Regions from separate parts of the Homo sapiens genome. Here region 1 is linked to region 2. The links come from fine-mapping of genetic effects on gene expression. A gene starts in region 2. The other region holds a variant in brackets. All regions are shown on one strand. Distances are from middle to middle.

Region 1 (4,380 bases), 58 kb after region 2:
TCACATTTTGTCGGTCTCTCTCTCCATCTGTCCACGCACTGTAGTACCTCCAGTATGATGAGCAGACAAGACGGGGACATGAGGTCTGGGAAACCCAGGGAGGGAGCCCTCAGCATACCCACTGTGCTGCAAGGGGCACAATGCTCAGAGGTACCTCCCAAAAATGTTGAACTGTGTTAAAGTCGGCGCAGGTAGGACGTCACGATATTTTACCTATTAATTCTTCAGCCTGTATCTTCTAAGAACAAGAGCATTTTCCCTGTAAAATTATAATATTATTATCTCCCTCAAGAACTTTACCATTGGTATTATCTAATAAACAGGCCATATTCAAATTTCCTAACTGTTCCAATAATAAACTTTAGAGCAATTTTTTTTTTTGAGTCAGGTTCTTGCTTTGTTGACCAGGCGGGAGTAGAGTGGCATGGTCATAGCTCCCTGCAGCCTCGAGCAATCCTCCTGCCTCAGCCTCCCAAGTAGCTGGGACGACAGGCATGTGCCATCATGCCCTCATTAAATTTTTTTTTGTAGAGACAGAATCTTGCTATGTTGCCCAGGCTGGTCTTGAATTCCTGGCCTCAAGCAATCTTTCTGCTTCAGCCTCCCGAAGTGTTGAGATTACATGTGTGAGCCGCTGCCCTTGGCATGGAGCATTTTTTAAAAAGCAGGATCCTGCAATGATATTCTCTGCCTCTCCTTGAAAAAAAAAAAAAAAAAAAAGACTATGCATTAGGTCACAAATAAAACATAGGTTGATTCCCCAAAGCAGAGGTAATACAGGCCATATTCAAATTTAGAAATTAATAACAAAAGATGAAAAAAATGCTTCAATTGCCTTGGACATTGCAAAACACCCTTCTAAATAACATCTTGGTTCAACTGTTAATTAAAACTTAAGTTCTACTTCATTTAAAGCACACTACATATAAAAACTTACGGCCAGGCGCGGTGGCTCATACCTGTAATCCCAGCACTTTGGGAGGCTGAGGCAGGCAGATCACCTCTGGTCAGGAGTTCGAGACCAGCCTGGCCAACATGGTGAAACCCCATCTCCACTAAAAATACAAAAATTAGCCAGGTGTGGTGGTGCATGCCTGTAGTCCCAGCTACTCAGGAGGCTGAGGAAGGACAATCACTTGAACCCTGGAGGTAGAGGTTGCAGTGAGCTGAGATTGTGCCACTGCACTCCAGCCTGGGTGACAGAGCAAGACTCTGTCTCAAAAATAAATAAATAAATAAATATTTTTAAAAAATCTTATGAGATGGGGCCAAAGCTGTGCTCAGAGGAAAATCTATAGCTTATTTATTTGTTTTGTTGTTGTTGTTGTTGTTTATTTGAGACAGGGTCTCACTCTGTCACCCAGACTGGAGTATGGTGGCACCATTGCTCACTGTAGCCTCAACCTCCCAGGCTCAAGTGATCCTCCCACCTCAGCCTCCCCAGTATCTCCACCATGCCCAGCTATTTGTTTAATTAATTAATTAATTAATTAATTTATTGGTAGAGATGGGGTCTTGCTATGTTACCAAGGCTGATCTCAAATACCTGAGCTCAAGCCATCGTCCTGCCTTGGCCTCCCAAAGTGTTGAAATTACAGGCGTGAGCCACTGCACTCAGCCTTTAATTTAATTGTAATTAGAAGAGAGAGAGAGAGAGAGAGAGAGAGACAGAGAGAGAGAAAGTCCGAGAGGAAATTAGCAAAGCAAACAATTCAGGAAGAAAAAAAA[G/A]CTATAAAATAGTGCACTGAAAGTTGAAAGAAAGCGTTCATAGAGATTAGAGGGAGTTAATTTTAAGTAAAAAATTATGGACAATAGTAAGAAGCTGGTTCTTTGGAAGGAGAAATACTCTTTTCCATGTTCTGTCTCTCTCTCATGTGTGCACACAGGTACACACACACAAAACCAACAATAATATTCTTTTACGTTTGTGTTTGTGTACTTTTGTGAATGCTTCAAGAAGGCAGAAGAGCACAATGGGACACAAGTTGCTTCCACTCTCTGTGCCTCAGTTTCCACCAATGTAAAATGGGGATAATGGCAGTAGCTCCCTGAGAGGGTCCCTGTGAGGATGACTTGCGTTGCCGTGGGTGGGGCGCTTGGCTCCGTGCCTGGCACCGAGGAGGTGCGATGTGTTTGCTGTGATCAGTATCATCCTCTGTTGCATAAATTCCTCCTGGGGAACTGCCGGGTTAGAGGGAGTGTTCGATGTCGCAGACGCCGCCGCGAGCGCTCTGCAAGCCTGTTTCCCACGGCTTCGCCAACGCAGCAACCGCCAAGTCAGCCTCTTTGATCTTTGCCTTCTCAGAGGAGAAAAGTGGGATCCCGGGGAGGTTTTTAATTTGCATTGATTTTCTAATGAATGCGGTTCAGCATTCTTCCAAGGAGGCTCTGCGGTTTTTAGAGCTGGCTGCAGGATCCTCCCTGGGGAGACGTGGTCTTTGCTGGGGCAGAGCCAGGCGCGGTGGTGGAGGTGGGTTTGAGTCTCGGGGAGCGCGCGGGAGCTGGGCACGGCCCCGTGCTTGAGAGGATCTGGCATTTTCCTGGGCAGCCTCGGCGAGAGAGAGTCGTGGAAGGTGAGTTAAGCCTCCGGATTATACTCTGCCAAGCAGGGACTAAAAATTCGTATCCAACAGAATTGCTAAGACAGCTGAAGACTGCGATTCACGCCTTCATCCCTTAAATAATGACAGCTCACAGGTATTGATCGTGACCTAAGTACCAGGCCCTGTCCAGAGCTTTCTAAACATGTGAACTCCCAAAGTCAGCATCACAACCCTGAGGGCGGTGCTGCGATTATTCCCGTTGTACAGAGGAGGAAACTCGAGGCTCAGAGAGGTAAAGTCATTTACCGAAGGTCACACAGCTGGCTGGGTACGGTGGCTCACGCCTGTAATCCCAGCACTTTGGAAGGCTGAGGGGGGCGGATCACCTGAGGTCAGGAGTTCGAGACCAGCCTGGCCAAAGATGAAACCCCCGTCTCTGCTAAAAATACAAACATTAGCCGGGTGTAGTGGTGCATGCCTGTAACGCCAGCTACTCTGGAGGCTGAGGCACGAGAATTGCTTGAACCCGGGAGGCTGAGGCTGCAGTGAGTCGAGATCGTGCCACTGCACTCCAGCCTGGGCGACAGAGTGAGACTCCGTCTTAAAAAAAAAAAAGAAGAAAGTCACAAAGCAAGTAAGTGTAGGATGGGAATTTGACCGGTCTGACTCCATTAACCCATCCAGTTATGTTTACCGAGCGCCTGTCTGGTGAAGGTCACTGTTTTTGGTGTGGGAGAAAGGCAAAGAAGACAAAGATACCTACCTTTGAAGGACTAGCATTCTAGGGAGTAGCACTGACATGCCGGGGGCAGTGGCTAACATTTAAGGGCGAGGGGCTAGCATTTAGGGGGAGTGGATAACTTTAGGAGGCGGGGCTAAAATTCCAAAGGGAGAAACTGATCTTCCAGGGAAAGAAATTGACATTCAGAGGGGAGGGACTAACATCCCAGGGGGAGGAGCTAATATTCCAGGGAGGAGGAGCTAACATTTCAGGAGGAGGGGCTAATATTTTTAGTACAATTATACACTGTTAATCACTACCTCTGTTTCTAACATTTTAGGGTAATTGCATGCTCTTAATCACTACCTCTGATTCTCTCAGGCAATAAAGGAGGGGCCAACCTTTATGAGGGAGGGGGTAATATGCCAAGGGGAGGAACTGACAATCCATGGGAAGAAATGGACATTCTAGGGGGAGGAGCTAACAACGAGGAGGGGCTAACATCGCAGGAGAAAAATTGACATTTAAGAGGGGAGAAGCTAACATCGCAGGAGAGAAATTGACATTTCAGAAGGGAGGAGCTAACATCATAGGAAAGAAATTGACATTTCAGGGGGAGGAGCTAACATTGCAGGGGAGAAATTGACATACAGGAGGAGGGGCTAACATTCAAATAAGGGTGCTAACATTCAGTGGGAGAGGCTAACATTGCAGGGGAGAAACTGACATTTCAGGGCAGGGCTGACACTCTCCATCCTTCAGATTCTACAGCCTCTGCCTCCTTGCTATACCCTGTCCCTACAAGTATTGGCTGAGCTCATAGTAGGTGCAAATCTCTGCCACCCTGGGGATTTGAACATGCCTGAATAGAATGGAGTCTGCCCTCATAGAGCTCGCAGCCTGGGGGCAGACAGTTCTGAACGGAATGATTACACAGAAAGACATTCACCTCCCAGGCAGGAGAGGTAATCACGCGCTCTTAATCACTACCTCCGTTTCTCTCAGGCAATACGGGAGGGGAGGCGGCACCCCCATCGTGGCCTGGTTTGAGATGTTCCCAGCCGTAGGAGACAGACTGTCATCAAGTGTCGGAAAATAGCTGTCATGGGAATCCTC
Region 2 (4,380 bases):
GCTAAAATTAGCTAAGGACAGACAGGTGGACAAACTGACAGGCATCCTGCCCTCCTGGCCCCAGCCTGGCCCCTCATCCCAGGGCCGGGGGGTGGGGTTGGGGAGAAGCTGAGGCTGACACTGAGATGTAGTAAGGGGGAGAGGGAGGTGTGGTGAGCCTGGAGCGGGTGGAGCTGGTGACTTCACTCAAGTGTGGCTGACAACGCGTGGCATGCCGAATAGTGCTGGGGAATCTGCCGTCCCAGGGGAGCAAGGGGCACTGAGATGGGGGTGTCATGGGCAGAGCATTTGGCCTAGGGTGTCCCCAAGGGAACCACAAGAGGTGGCTTTTGGAGACTGGGGCATCTTGAGAGGGTGTGCGGGTAGGTGGGGAGGTCGGCCTGGGGAGTGCTGTCCAGGTGACAGTGGTGTGGTGGCCCGGGTAGATGTGGGTGGCTGCAGATGACCTGTAGCTCTTTTCTAGGACTGCAGGGTGGGTGGGCTGGCTTGCTGGGTACTAGGGGCTCCACTCTGAGGACTGGGGGTGTTAGGAGGGAGGCTAAGAAGTGAGAGGAGGGTCTGGGGAACTGAGTGGGGGATCATCTCTAGATCCTTGCTGTTCTCCCTTGAGGTGGCCTTATGAGGGTGGAGCCCCTTCCAAATGGGGTCCGCCTCCCTTCTGTTCTCCCCCAACTCCCACCCCAGCACCGGAAACCAGAATGTCTGGTCTGGTCCCTCCCCCCAACACCAGGCCCGGTTCCTGCACCGTTGCCATGGAGATGGGAAGCAGTGGAGGGTACTGCTGACTTTGGGGGAGTGGGGATGGGCTGGGGGGTTGGGAAAGGGAAGACTAAATGTGTGTGGTGGGAGGAGAGTTCCAGGAGGTGTGGGCGAGCGAGCCTCTAACCCAGGGCCGGCGGACCCCTCCCCCACGCGCGGCAGCGCTGCGAAGCCCCCTCCCCCTCCAGGTACCCAGCCACGCCGCCCCACCTCGTCCCTGCGGAGACCCCGGCTGCCTCCTCCCTGCCCCGCCGCACAGCCCACCTCGCGATCTGGGGCCCGCAGACACTCCCCCTCGGCTGACCCTGGCTGACCCCCAGCCTCAACCCCGCTCGGAGGGGGTGGCCGGTGGGATGAAAGAAAAGCTGGCTAGGGCCCCCCGCGCGTACGGCTGCCCCAGCCCCCCCGGGCCGGCTCCGGCCCCTCCCCCTCAGGGCTCGCGGGAGGGAGCGGGCACGCTCCGCCGGGGCGGCATGAATCAAACGCTCCGCGGCTAAGAATAGCTGGCACGCAGCTGGTACCGAGACGGGCTGAGGAATCGGCGAGGGGGGTGGTGGAGGACGCGAGAGAGGGGGTGCCCTGGGAGGCTGTGGGGGGACAGGGGGCGGCTGGCGTGGCCGAGAGCGGGGCCGGGGAGAATGAATGGAGGCGGAGGGAGGCGGGGAGGGGCGGGGAGAGAGAGCCGGAGCCGAGGCTGGGAAACTGGTGGGGGAGAACCCGGCCGGGGAGAGGGGCGGGGGGCACCGGGGAGCAGGAGTCGGGGGCGGGAGCCGAGGGGGCGCGCCGGCCGGCGGTGTAGGGACTGGAGACCTGGTGGGGACGCAGGGAGCTTGGACAGGGGTGGAAAGGGACTGGAGGAGCCTGGAAGGAGAAGCGGGAGCTGGAGGGGTCGAAAGGGGCGGAGGAGGCCCGGGCCTAGACCCTCGCTGGAGGGGAGTGGGGACCAGGGTGACCTGGCGGAGGGGCCCAGGTACGCCAGGGAGGGCGAGGCGGGGGAGTGGCCGGGCTGGGCGGGGAGGCGGGTACCAGGACCGAGCCCTTGGCCCCGGAGAGCCGGGAGGCGGGTTCGGGATAGGGGCTCTGCTGGCCGGGGGTGGGGGGCGCGCCCTCCCATCAAGGATGCGATCTGGGACGGGGCACCGGGGACCCGGGCGTAACCCAATTTGGTGTCGCCCAGGGCAACGCTCCCCACCTCACCCGTACCCCCAGCCGCACACCCAGGCCAGGAGCCCGGCGCCGGGCCAAGGACATCCGGGGCGCCCTCGCCCCCTCCCGCGGCCCCGGCCCCGCAGCTGCCCCAAACCCCCAGGTTCTCGACCCCCTTACCTGCCTGGCGGGGCTGCTGAGTCCCGGTCGGCGGCGCCCGCGGCCCCTCCCCCCTCCCCCCACCCCCCACCCCCCCGGAGACGGGGACCCTCAGGCCATGCCCCACCGCCCCGGAGGGCGAGCGGGCCCGGGGAGGGGGCGGGCGGGGACCGGGGGGGAGGGCGGGAGGGCCGAGGACCTCACCCCCCCCGCGGGCCGGGCCTGGCCATCCGCAGAGCGCCCCCCCTTCCGCCGCGGCCGCCGCGCCCCTCCTCGCCCGCCCCCGGCTCGGTCCGGCCGGCTCCGGGCGCCGCGTCTCCGCCTGCTCTTCCTCCTCCTCTTCCTCGGGCCGCCGCCGCCGCCGCCCGCTCCGCGCCTCCTCTGCCACCCTTCTCGCTCTCTCGCTCTCGCTGTCTCTCCCTCACCCTGTCTCTCTCCCTCCCTCTCTCCCTCCCTCCCCTCCCTCCGCCCTCTCCCCTCCCTCCGGGAGCCGGCGGAGGAGACATCGCCCCTCCCCGCGCCCCCAAACCTCGCCCATCCCCCACCACCGCCGGCTCCGCCCCCTACCCTTGCCCTCCCCCACCACTCCTCCCCACCTCCGAGTCCCCAAATCCTGACTCCGCCCCTGCTTGCTCCCATACCCCGAGGAAGGGGTCCTGCCCCCATAAGGTGCCCCCCCACACACACCTCAGGACCACCCCCTCCCAGAGAGCTCCCCGCCGCCCTACACAGAGTGGGGCACAATAAATATTTGTTGCCAGACTCTACACCCCCAAATTTAAGTGTGAAGGCTATAGATTCCCACCCTGTCCCCCCAAACACACACACACCCTTTCCATTTAAGCACTGGGTCAGGGCACACGTGGACATACCTGGGCCAGGCCACATTTCCCCAAGGCACAGGTGCATAGTCACCAGCTGTAACGGCACCTGCAGAGTCCCCACATACACACACTCTCCAGCGCATGCATGCCCAGACACAATGCACCTGGGGTACACAGCTACAAACACACCCAGCTACATGCAGTTGTCACACCCCTGTGCCCGGGCACACACGCAGCACATGCACACATTTGCCCACCACACACGCACGTGCGCGCGCACACACGCACACAGGCGTTCACCCCGGTATGCATGCCCAGATCTCTCAACACCAAAACGGAGTTACAGCACTGTAGAGACGTGTGCACGCCTTCCCATCACACCCACCCACCGTGCTGTCCATTGCACTGGCTCGCACTCACCCGTTTACATGCCCAACACCGTGCCATCCTTCCCCTCCAGGATAGTTACTGCTGACATTCCTGGAGCACTTTCTGTGTGCCAGGCTCAGGGACTTTCGCCATCCCCATTTTCCAGAGGGGGAAACCAAGGAACAGAGAGGCTAAGTAACTTGCCCAAGGTCATCCAGCTGTAAGGAGGTGGTAACAAGGATCAGGAACAGGTAGGCTGGCTCCAAAGTCCTCACTTGACAACTATGGTGCACTACTGGGCATATCCCCTCATAGTTGCATATCCTTATTCATCACACACAGACACACCCAACCGTCTCCTCAGAGTTTGCACATGTCTGTGTAGGCACGCATATGCAGCCAGCTGCAGGCAGACAGCTCATTCATGCCTGGGACGCACCCACAGGGACAGAGCAGATCCCACAGGGCAGCAGTGAGTGGTGAGTGTCCCCTTAGCCCAGGCTTCCTCATTCTCCCAGCTCCAACAGCACCTCCAGGGCCTGCAGGGGGCAGTTCTAGGCAGCTTCTGGGTTCCCCTCCAGCTGCAGGCTCTCCGGGGTACCCGAGTATGAGCTGGAGGAGGTGCCTGCTCAGCCTGGGGAGGCCTCTATCTTGATGCGTACCCACTAGCCCAGGTGGTGAGCAGCTGGGCCCGGGGAAAGCACAGCTGCCCATGTTGGCTCCAGCAGCCAGAGAGGCTGTGCACCCCTGCACACTTTACAAGGCCTTTCCCCACATACGCATTATTTCTTGAGGTCTGTAGCTCCTGGTGAGGGGCCCCAGGTTCCCGATGGGCACCTGAGAGGCCCAGGCTCTGAGGCAGGGAGCAGTCTGCCCAAGGTCACAGTGCCCTCGATGTACCAGGATTTCTTGGAAAACGGAAGGCTGGAGGCACTGATTTCCAAGGCCCCTCCTGGGGCTCCCGGCAGCCGAGGGCAGATGCCCTGCTCTTGGAGCCAGAAACCTTGGCTAGCTGCCGCCACACTGGTGACCTCCAGCAGGCTATGCTGTTTCAGAGCCTCGGTCTCCTCCTTTGAAGAGCAGGCCCAGTGATCCTTGGCTGGTGTGCCCCATGCTTGTTGGC

Which allele goes with the higher level. Alleles are on the strand shown, and positions count from the first base shown. SD is a standard deviation of normalised expression in the study named.
For the expression in skin of the gene that starts at base 2,482 in region 2, allele A in region 1 goes with a higher level than allele G (moderate effect, 0.44 SD a copy in TwinsUK).

Evidence for each region. PIP is the estimated chance that this variant, and not a neighbour inherited with it, causes the effect. A credible set is the group of variants that fine-mapping cannot tell apart.
Region 1: its variant is the best candidate, but not a certain one, in a credible set for the expression of SHANK1 in skin (TwinsUK, PIP 0.75).

What each region holds. Positions count from the first base shown.
Region 1 is chr19:50,775,771-50,780,150 of GRCh38, forward strand. No RefSeq gene overlaps it. Among named protein-coding and RNA genes, the nearest start is that of GPR32, 7.5 kb to the left of the region's middle. RefSeq lists an enhancer at 1,843-2,667. The variant G/A (reference allele first, on the strand shown) is at 1,729.
Region 2 is chr19:50,717,321-50,721,700 of GRCh38, forward strand. SHANK1 (SH3 and multiple ankyrin repeat domains 1) reads right to left here and starts at 2,482. Exons shown (of 24, transcript NM_016148.5): 1 at 2,086-2,482.